Linked DNA regions of Homo sapiens. The protein of the gene in region 1 purifies or fractionates together with the protein of each later gene. This does not show direct contact. Each region holds a gene or a part of one and is shown on either strand. Other genes may lie near its edges.

Region 1 (5,472 bases):
GAATTTAAAATGTGCAACAGCTTTGGAAATCATTCAGGCATCCGGGAGCTATACTACTGAGTGGGTCACCTCTGGCTGCACATCTAAAGACAATTTTACTCACGGAATGATCTTCTCTGGAGCTTCCTCAGCCTGTAGAAGCTGGGACAAGGCATATCCGAGAGCTTCCAGCACAGCCACATGGGGGGACTGGAAGTAGACAGGGTAAGGATCTGACTGGAAGCTGGGTCATCAGGTCTTCAGAGACTTTCAGCCCCTTGGCACAGGGCAGAGGCTGGAGCTACCTAACCAAAGTAGATGGAGCATGTGGGGAGGAGCAAAGGAAGGGTTGCCCAGGGAGGAAGAAAGGAGTCACCTGGATGCAGGCAGCCAAGGCTGGAACAATGCCCTGTGGCAGGAGCTGCCTTCTCACAGCCTCACTCTCCACGATCAGGTTACCCAGTGTATACAGACACAGCTCCTGAGAACAGGCAACAAAAGCACTGGGCTTGGCCTGTTTCATGCCAGGCTGCGTGTGGGGAGATGGGGAGGGGAGGTGATGGGGACGCTGGAGCAGCTATCCTTGCGGCTCACAAGAGGGTGGGGAGATGATGGGTGTAGCCATGGCTGTAGGCATAAGGGCAAACATGTTTTCTTCCTCCTACCTGCCAGCTCAAACTGGTCCCAAAAGCACAATTTTAAAATCTAAACCAAGAACAAGATAGGAAGGGACAGGGCTTACTATGAAGTCTGAGCTGTGACTGGAGAGGTAGGTGAGGAGGTAAGAAGTGGCTGGCAGGCAGGCCTCAGCAACAGTGGACTGCTCGGAGTGAGAGAGCTCATGCAGGCACCGAGCCGCCTCAAGCTGCAGCAGGGCCTGGTTGCTGGTCAGGAGCCCGACCAGGGTCCGCATGCTGCCCTCCAGCCTATGTGAGTGAGTACCAGAGCCCTGCTTAGCTTGTGGTCCATCCCTCAGAGCCCCAACTCCTCCCTCCACCACACCATCCACACTGACCGGATGAAGGTTTGCTGTGTTTCAGGGTGCTGCAAGCCTCGACGAAGGCTGACCAGAGCCCCCTCTCTCTCCTTTTCCTCTGTCCCCCGCTGGGCTTGCCGCAGGAACTGCTGCACCTGGAGTTCAGGGCAGGGAAAGGAGAACACACGGTTCACAGAAAGCAAGTCCTAAGTCTCTCTCTGCCCACTTCACCTGTGAGCCTTCCAATATCACACCTTCAGAACTTGTCATTCACACTAATGCAACTAATAAGCATCTACCTTGCAGTGGAGTGGACAGAGAATCAGAACTGAGTTCTAATACCATACCTGCCACTTACTCCATATGGGACCTGAACCTAAGTTTCCTCACCTGAAAATGAGAATAACAATATCTATCCTGCCTTCATACAGGGTTCTTTCAAGGATATTTAAACCTCTCAGCCTGGCAAAACCTACTCCTCTAGCCATTCTCCCCATGCAACCTACACTCTAACAACAACCAGCCTAACATGAGCTTTTTCTTTTTCTTTTTTTTACATTTCCGAGCTTTTGCACATGCTATTTCTTCTGCCTGGATACCCTCTCCAGCTTCCCACTCTCTTCAGGTTTCTGCTCCTCATTTCCTCTGGGAAGTTAGCTCTTTTTGAGAGACTTAGGAGTTTCTCTTGTTCCTCATGTTTCCTTCCCTTGTGACATCTGTCTTCTTCACCGGGCTGTGAGCACCTCAAAGAAAAGGACTCTATCCTTTCATCTTTGTGTACCTCAGTGACCAGCACAGTGTCCTGGCATAAAGTAAGCATACAATGGAATAGTATGACCTAGGAATAAGTTGATAATATATATGTCAACATGGTATGTACGGTAAACTATGTACGTAAACATAATACAAATACAGGGGATACTCAATGCTTACTGAATAAATCCTTTCATTCACTCATTCAATAAACACTGAGTACTTAACTATATGCCAGATAATGTGCAGGCAACCGGGTTTTCAATGACAACACAGGATCTAGGTTTTCCTGCAATTAAAGTCTAGTTGGAGAAATAACAATAGACAAACCATTAGATAATGATTAATATTCTACAAGAAACAAGTAGGTGGCCGGGCACAGTGGCTCACGCCTGTAATCCCAGCACTTTGGGAGGCCAAGGCGGGTGGATCATGAGGCCAGGTGTTCCAGACCAGCCTGACAAACATGATGAAACCCCGCCTCTACTTAAAATACAAAAATTAGTGGTGGCGCGCGCCTGTAATCCCTGCTACTCGGGAGGCTGAGGCAGGAGAATCGCTTGAACCCGGGAGGCGGATGTTGCAGTGAGCCGAGATCATGCCACTGCACTCCAGCCTGGCGACAGAGCGAGAGTCTCAAAAAAAAAAAAAGAAAAGAAAAGAAAAAAAATAGGCTCTCAAGACAGAATACCAAAAGAAACGAACGTTAGACGTAGCGAATGCCAAGGGCTTGAGACACAAATCCGATATATCGTTGCAGGAACTAAAAAGAGGACGGTGGGTAGGATGAGAAAACTGATAAAATTTGAGTTAGGAAGAGGCTAGACCATGCTATGCTTTGCAAGGCACAGGAAAGATTTTGGTCTCCACGTGTTTTTAAAGGACGTAGTGACGGTGACAAGCATAGATGCAGGGTGACCTTTTAGGAGACTGCAGTAGTATCCAGAGAGGAGGTGGTGGTGGCAGCTTCGATGGTGAGGCATGTAAAGACTCCAAAGCTCTTCAGGAGGTAAACAACTAGGACTTGATGATGGATCGATATGGGGTTGTGGGTCAAAGAGTTGTGCAGGATGATTCCCCTGTTTCTGGCTTGACCCACTGGATGCGTGGAAGTGTAGAGTGGATTGCGTTCAGGTTTGGGGCAGACCTCGAGTACTCCCGGGAGTCTGGCGCCAGCGGGCGTGGACTCCAGCGCACCCTACCTTGCCCCCTCACCTCGGTTTCCCCGAGGATCGCAGCCACACATCCCTCTCCAGCTTCCTCTGGGGCGTCGTTTCTCAGCAGCCTCTTGCTGACCAGCTGCTGCTCCCTCCGCGCCTTCCGCAGTGCTGGGGGCAGAGGAGCCGGCTGAGCGTGGGAAGGACGACCACAACCCAGAACCCGCGGCTCCGAGCCTGGGGTCTCAACTTATCCCCGACCGCCATATACCCCCGCGCTCCCTCGGCCGCCCACACCTGCCTCCCGCTCCCGCCGGCGGCGCCGTAGCTCCTCCACCCCGCAGACCGTGGGCCTGAGGCGGCCCTGCCGTCGGCTCCACATGGTGGAGCAGGAGGAGGAAAGCCGAAGGAAACAGCAGCCACAACGCTCCCAGGGGCGTAGAAGATGGCACCGACTGCGCAGCCTCAGCACAGGGCGGGAACAGGCGGGGAGGGCGCGAGGAGCGGGGTGGGTGCTGGGTGAGGGCGGGGCTCGGCGAGTGGACGCCTCGCGGGGACGGTGGGCGGGGCGAGGGCTAGAGACGCTGCACCACTAGACCAGAGCCAGAGGCGTCGCTCTGCCTCTGATTGATTTCCTGTCTTACCAATTCTAGGAAAAAAAGTCTCTCATCCCTGACCTCGAGTGACCCAAGCCAGCAGTGTCACAATCTACTCAGCAAACACAACTTCCCCACCCACAATACGCTCTAGATGAAAGTTCAAAACAATCCCGAACTGCGGGAAGCGCCATGATGCCGTTTCACTATTAATGCGGATCCCACTGATGAGAGCTGCCAAAAACGCTTGAAGCGTCATTGAATTGTCAACGAAAAGAGTCCAACTCTGTAAAATATTTGAAGAGACTTATTCTGAGCCAAATATGAGTGACCATGGCCCTTGACACAGCCCTCAGGAGGTCCTGAGAACATGTGCCCAAGGTGGTCCGGTACAGCTTGGTTTTACATATTTTAGGGAGATATGAGACTTCAGTTCATTCAAGAAATACACTGGTTGGGCCGGGCCTGGTGGCTCATGCCTGTAATCCCAGCACTTTGGGAGGCCTGGGCGGGTGGATCAGCTGAGGTCAGGAATTTGAGACCAGCCTGGCCAACATGGTGAAACCCCATCTTTACTAAAAATACAAAAATTAGCCGGGAGTAGTGGTGGGTGCCTGTAATCCCAGCTACTCGGGAGCCTGAGGCAGGAGAATCGTTTGAACCCGGGAGGCGGAGATTGCAGTGGGCCGAGATCGCGCCCCATTGCCTGGGGTACAAGAGCGAAACTCCGTCTCAAAAAAAAAAAAAAGAAAGAAAGAAAGAAAGAAATCTGGGATATGATGAGGTTTCTCTTCAAATAATTAGATCAATCTTTTATTCTTTAATTCATAGTACTCCCCCCCACACACACTTTTGTTTTCCTTTTTCTCCTTTTTGCCTTCGTTAGATGCCGAGGCACGCCACAGTACAAGACGTTATCAGTACCAGACGTTATCAGTACCAGCTCACATTCCTTTCATTATTTGGAAAGAGGACTAACTTTCTAGTTCATTACAGGCACCCCTTCCCCTTTCCTCTCCACTTTCTTTTACGTGCCCACATTACCTAAAAAAATCAAATGTTTAGCCAACCGGGATTAGTTCAGATTGTATGACCCGACCCCGGCCAATGGGGAAAGGGTACAGGGGCAGGACTTGCGTCAGGAATAAAGGCTCTCGTGCCCCTTTGTTCAGGTGTGCTCTCATGGCGACTGGCCAAGCAGACACCCCTCTGAGCAGAAGTAAAATTGCTTTGCTAATAATCCTTTGTTCGAGTGTTCAATTTCCCTTAGGATTTTGAGCGTTATTCCTAAGAGAAAGAAAAGAAAGAAAGGAAGGAAGAAAGAAAGAAAGAAAGAAAGGGAGAAAAGAAAGAAAGAAAAGAAAAGAGGAAAGGAGGAAGGGAAGAGAGGGGAGGGGGAAAGAGAGAAAGACATTGGTTTGTGGGACAACAGAAAGGCGGGACAACTCGAAGTGGGGCGGTGGGGGGCTTCCAGCTTATAGGTAGATTTTAAATTTTTCTGGTTGACAATTGGTTGAGTTTCTCTAAAGACCTGAAATCAATAGAAAGGAATGTCTGGGTTAAGATAAAGGATTGTGGAGACCCAAGTTCTTATTTGCAGAGGAAACCTTCAAATCCTAGGCTTCAGAGAGAATGGGTTGTAAAATGTTTCTTATCAAACTTAAAGTCTGTGTTGATGTTAACGGTAGAGAGGTATAATGAGGCACGTTCAACCCCTACTTCCCATCATGGCCTGAAACGGTCACTCGGGTTTAATTTTGAAAGAGCCCTGGCTGAGGAGGAAGTCCATTCAGATGGTTGTGGGGGGCGGCCTTAGAATTTTATTTTTGCTTTACAGAATGTTCACCACAATGACCATTATTCTCATTTTATATGTGATGAAAATGAGAAAGATATCATTATTTCACTTCTCTGCATAAAACTGAATTCCCATAATTTTTAGGATAAAATCTTTCACCAAATGTGGAGTGCCACTAGTCTACTAGGCACTGAGGAAACACTAGTGAATAAA
Region 2 (4,095 bases), on another chromosome or scaffold:
AAGCTGGTCCTTCCATTTATTGAAGCTTCAATTAATTAGACTTCATCATGTTATAGCTAAATGGATGTGACTAGAAAGAGCAGCATACAGACATCTATGTGTAAACTGTTACTTGTTGGTTAACATTTATGTTTGAAATGGAAAATCAATAAAAGGGAACTTATATTAATTTATAAGCACATTAAGAAAAGAGGGGACACTATTTTTGATCCCAAGATAGCAACAAAACTAAAAACTTTTCCAAAGAAGCAAACGGGAACAGAGGTCAATAGGCTGTGACCTCTATTTTATGTTTAAAACGTTTGCACATCCACTAAGTGCACTGCAGAATCTTAAATGCAATTAAAATCAATGGGCATACAAGTTATAGAGTAGCTTGAGGAAGCACAAGTCAATCTTCATTAGCTATTGTAGCAAAGATTCCTTCCAAATCCATGGGAGCAGGTGCTGTTTATACTCCCTTCATTGACGCCCAGAACAATGGCATAGGGTGAGCATTGAATACTTATTTGCTACGCGCATGAATGAATGAAGCTACGCTGCGAAGGCAGACTGCGTGGCTGCTGGTCCCGTGGCTGCTGGCCCCGCAGCATGTCTGCCGCCTTTTCAGCAGGCTTGCTGCATCTCCTCATTCCCTCACCTTTCTGGCAGTAAGGAGTTCCCACGTTTGCCCCGCTTCAGTGTCGTGGACTGGCAAAATGCTGTCTCTAAACCCCTCCACGCCTCAGGTAATCCGCTCATTTCTCACACAGACGCAGCTGTTTCCGAGGAATGTCCGGCCGAGCCCGCAGGGTGCGGGCAGCGAGTATCCTGGGACCTTCAGGGGAGGAGGTGGCTCCCACACCCCAATACCGTACAGAGAGTCCGAAGAGTCCGGGCCCTTATTTTTCCAATTCTTGGTAAACAACAAACATGCTCGCCCTCGCCTCCCCGTGCAGACGCCTCAGGGCCAACTCGGGCTTCGCCAGGCACCGAGAGCAGACAGAAGACGCCAAATGGCTATCACCAGGAGAGAGGGCGAGGCAGCCGCGCGGCGTATAGCGCTCGCCCTTCCCGCGCGCTCGGTCGCCCGACGCCTCACGCGCGAGGTTGCCTTGGCAGTGGCTGGAGGGCAGGTGGGGGCGCGTGCGCGCAGAAGGGCGGGGGAGGGACCACCGCGCGCCAGCAGGTGGGCGCGTTCTCCCGCGCGCGTGCGCGCGTCGAAGCCCTATACATCACGTTCCCCGAGAGCAGCGTCCCCTCCCCGCCGGGAGCGCGCGCCTCCCATCCTCGCGCCGGGTCCTGCTCGGTCTCTCAGAGCCGCACACTCCGCGGAGCTCCTGCCACAGCCGTCGCCTTCGCGGCGGCTCTCCAGCCCCGCGCCTCAGCCTCGGCGCCGCATCACCGCGTCCCAGGCCTCCTTCCCTCCCTCTGCCACTCCCCCTCCCTTTCCCGCTCTTCTTGCCCACCCGGCCGGCAGAGAGAGCCTGGATACGAAGCAGGCGGGCTTCAGAGTGGGTTGGAAAAATGGAGGTGCCGCGCCTGGATCATGCCCTCAACAGCCCCACCAGCCCCTGTGAGGAGGTGATCAAAAACCTCAGCCTGGAGGCCATTCAGCTGTGCGACCGGGACGGTAAGAGCGGCCGGGACCGCGAGGAAAGGGACAGAGTTCGCGCCGAGGCGCCGGGGCCACTCTGGCTCCGCCGACGCCGCTCGCCAGGGCGGCAGGGTCTTTTGTTGTCCCCTCTGTGCAAATAAATGCAGATGTGGGTTACCCTCCGCCCACCGCCCTCCCCTCACCCCAGAAACAAAAGGACCCCGGGGCTCGCGCCTTGGCGCGGAAAGTAGCCGTCCACAACCGTGGCGCCCTTCGCCGCCTTCGCCCGCCTGGCCCGGACGAGGGCGACGTTCCCGCTCGCGGCTCCTGCCCCGACGAGGCGTTTCCGATCTTTGCCGCAGTCCGGATTTCCTGGGTCTCTGGGCACTGAAGGGGAAATGCCCTCGGGATGTTTCTAGCAACCCCCTTCCCCCAACACACACACACTAGTTGGCATTCTCTTCCAGAAACTTATCATTTTCTTTTTTAAACCTCCCATCCTCAGACTCCCCAAATTAACAAGTCTTTTTAGCCTCTTGGATTGGGATTAGGATGACAGTTTTTCAGTGAGGGCGCAGAAAAACAGTGCATTTCAGCACCAAGGACAGACACAATCTTCATGGTTCCTGGGCTCTGAGTCAGACTGTCGAAAATATTGGCCTAATATATGTGCTGTGATTCAGACTTTGTGGCGAGTACGTACCATTGCGTGTTGATATTATATCGTTTATTCTGTTGTTGAAGTTGGCAGGCTCCTGTGGAAGGAAATTGATTGAATACAGGTCTGAGCGTTGAAGACATAAGCTAGTGCTGTGTGCGGTGTGGTTAGTTACAGTGCTTCTGGGTTAGCTGGACTAGTTAGAGTCTGCTACTTTAGTAATGTGGTACAAAACTTCATTTGTAAAGAAATCATTTGATTAGTAATTGGTTGGCCGAATAATTGTAAAATTCTACATCTGACAAAGGAAACACAGTTCACATGTTGTTAAGAGGGCCCCAAATACTTTTGACTGTAAATGAAATTAATGTTTAACTGTATATAGAGGTAATGATTGTAAAACATGTCTTTAACCAAAGTTATGTACAGATACTAATACGCTCACAGTAAGGTCATAAAATTTATCAGCCTAATCCAAATAGGGAGCAGAGGTCTTGTTTCCAAAGTCATTTAAATGGTAATCACTTGGTTACGCATTGCTATTCAGCACGTTTATATCAAGCAAGCACCGAATTTGTTTATTACTAAATTTTATATTTATTAATATAAATTTATATTTAATAATTTTGAAACCAGAATTCAAACTTTTTGAAACCAAAACCACTTTAATTTCTGATACAGGTGTAGTATATGAATAAATAAATACGTTTGCAAAGACAGCTTGTATTTCCTTTATTCTTAGACTGTTTTAGTCACCATGGTAGTAAGTGCACATATTTATGGTATCTAAAAACATTTATCATTTTGGTATTCCATATGTAAGCTTGCATGATTATAGACTGTAAAGATTATTTTTAATAACGCATAGGAAGTCATTTGGATTTTAGTTTAGACTTTTATGAAATGACTTTTTGTAATGTAACCATTGCAAGTTGTAAATATTTTTATTTTCTTAGGGTTGAGAGAAACACAAGACTAATAAAAGTAGACTTCATTTTTATTTATTGCAATGATAAAGCAAAAGCTCATTCTTGTACTCAATGGAATTAGGCATTCATTGTTGCTCTTCAGAACCCAGTAATCTCAATACTTAAAACCGCATTTACCACGTGTTTCAAAGATATTAGGGAAAATTTAAACTTTTTAATGAAGTTCACAGAGTTAAGAGAGTGCAAAAAATAATGCTGTATTTACTGTGATCCCCTAGAGGAGTAGCTATTTTATTCTGGTATTATTTTTTAGTTGTTTCTTTTCAAATTAGGAATCCCACAAAATGAACAAATTATGTAACATTTAATTTTGGGGAGGGTGCTGGCACTAAGTAACATCTATGAAAATTACTATTTGCAGACTTCCAAGTAATTTACATAGACTAATTAAATAGGGTTTTATTTTATAAAATAGTATACACCAACAAATACAAAGAGCTAACTCTTCTACTAGAAGATGTATAAAATTTGGAAATACTTTGTTTAGAGATGTTGTTAAATGCTTAACTTATTTTGTTATCCTATCTTACATGTCAATTCCAAAAATATTAACTTGGTTGGCTTCAAAGGGATAATTTAGGGGGAATAATGTCGTTTGTTTTTAATAGAACAGCATATGAAATGTTGCATTAAATTTGTCAAACAGACCTTACTTAGCATCATTTTGTATTGAGAGATTTTCAGCTAGTTGCTTTTTACTCCCTTTGCTTCCCTCCTTTCACTTTCTTTCCACTCAAGTCTCGTTATTTTACTTCTGTAACTATGTAACATAGAAAAGGATGTGGCAGAATATGGGACAGAAGATCTATTTTGTGTTTAAGTACCTAATAAGAGCTATATTTCATAATTTATGATAGAATACATTTATTTTG

What was found.
Region 2: the proteins of TMCO6 (region 1) and PHYHIPL purify together in Homo sapiens (affinity purification with mass spectrometry; 3 studies listed by BioGRID and IntAct, with this or other methods). This does not show direct contact.

Annotation. Positions count from the first base shown.
Region 1 is NC_000005.10:140,637,303-140,642,774, reverse strand, and holds the start of TMCO6 (transmembrane and coiled-coil domain-containing protein 6), read right to left. Parts: upstream 3,325-5,472; 5' UTR 3,248-3,324; coding exon 3,163-3,247; intron 3,037-3,162; coding exon 2,924-3,036; exon of another isoform or gene 2,911-2,923; intron 1,111-2,910; coding exon 995-1,110; intron 906-994; coding exon 722-905; intron 461-721; coding exon 356-460; intron 285-355; exon of another isoform or gene 190-284; coding exon 104-189; intron 1-103.
Region 2 is NC_000010.11:59,175,348-59,179,442, forward strand, and holds the start of PHYHIPL (phytanoyl-CoA hydroxylase-interacting protein-like), read left to right. Parts: upstream 1-1,295; 5' UTR 1,296-1,506; coding exon 1,507-1,612; intron 1,613-1,816; exon of another isoform or gene 1,817-2,243; coding exon of another isoform or gene 2,244-2,271; intron 2,272-4,095. UniProt on the Homo sapiens protein: May play a role in the development of the central system.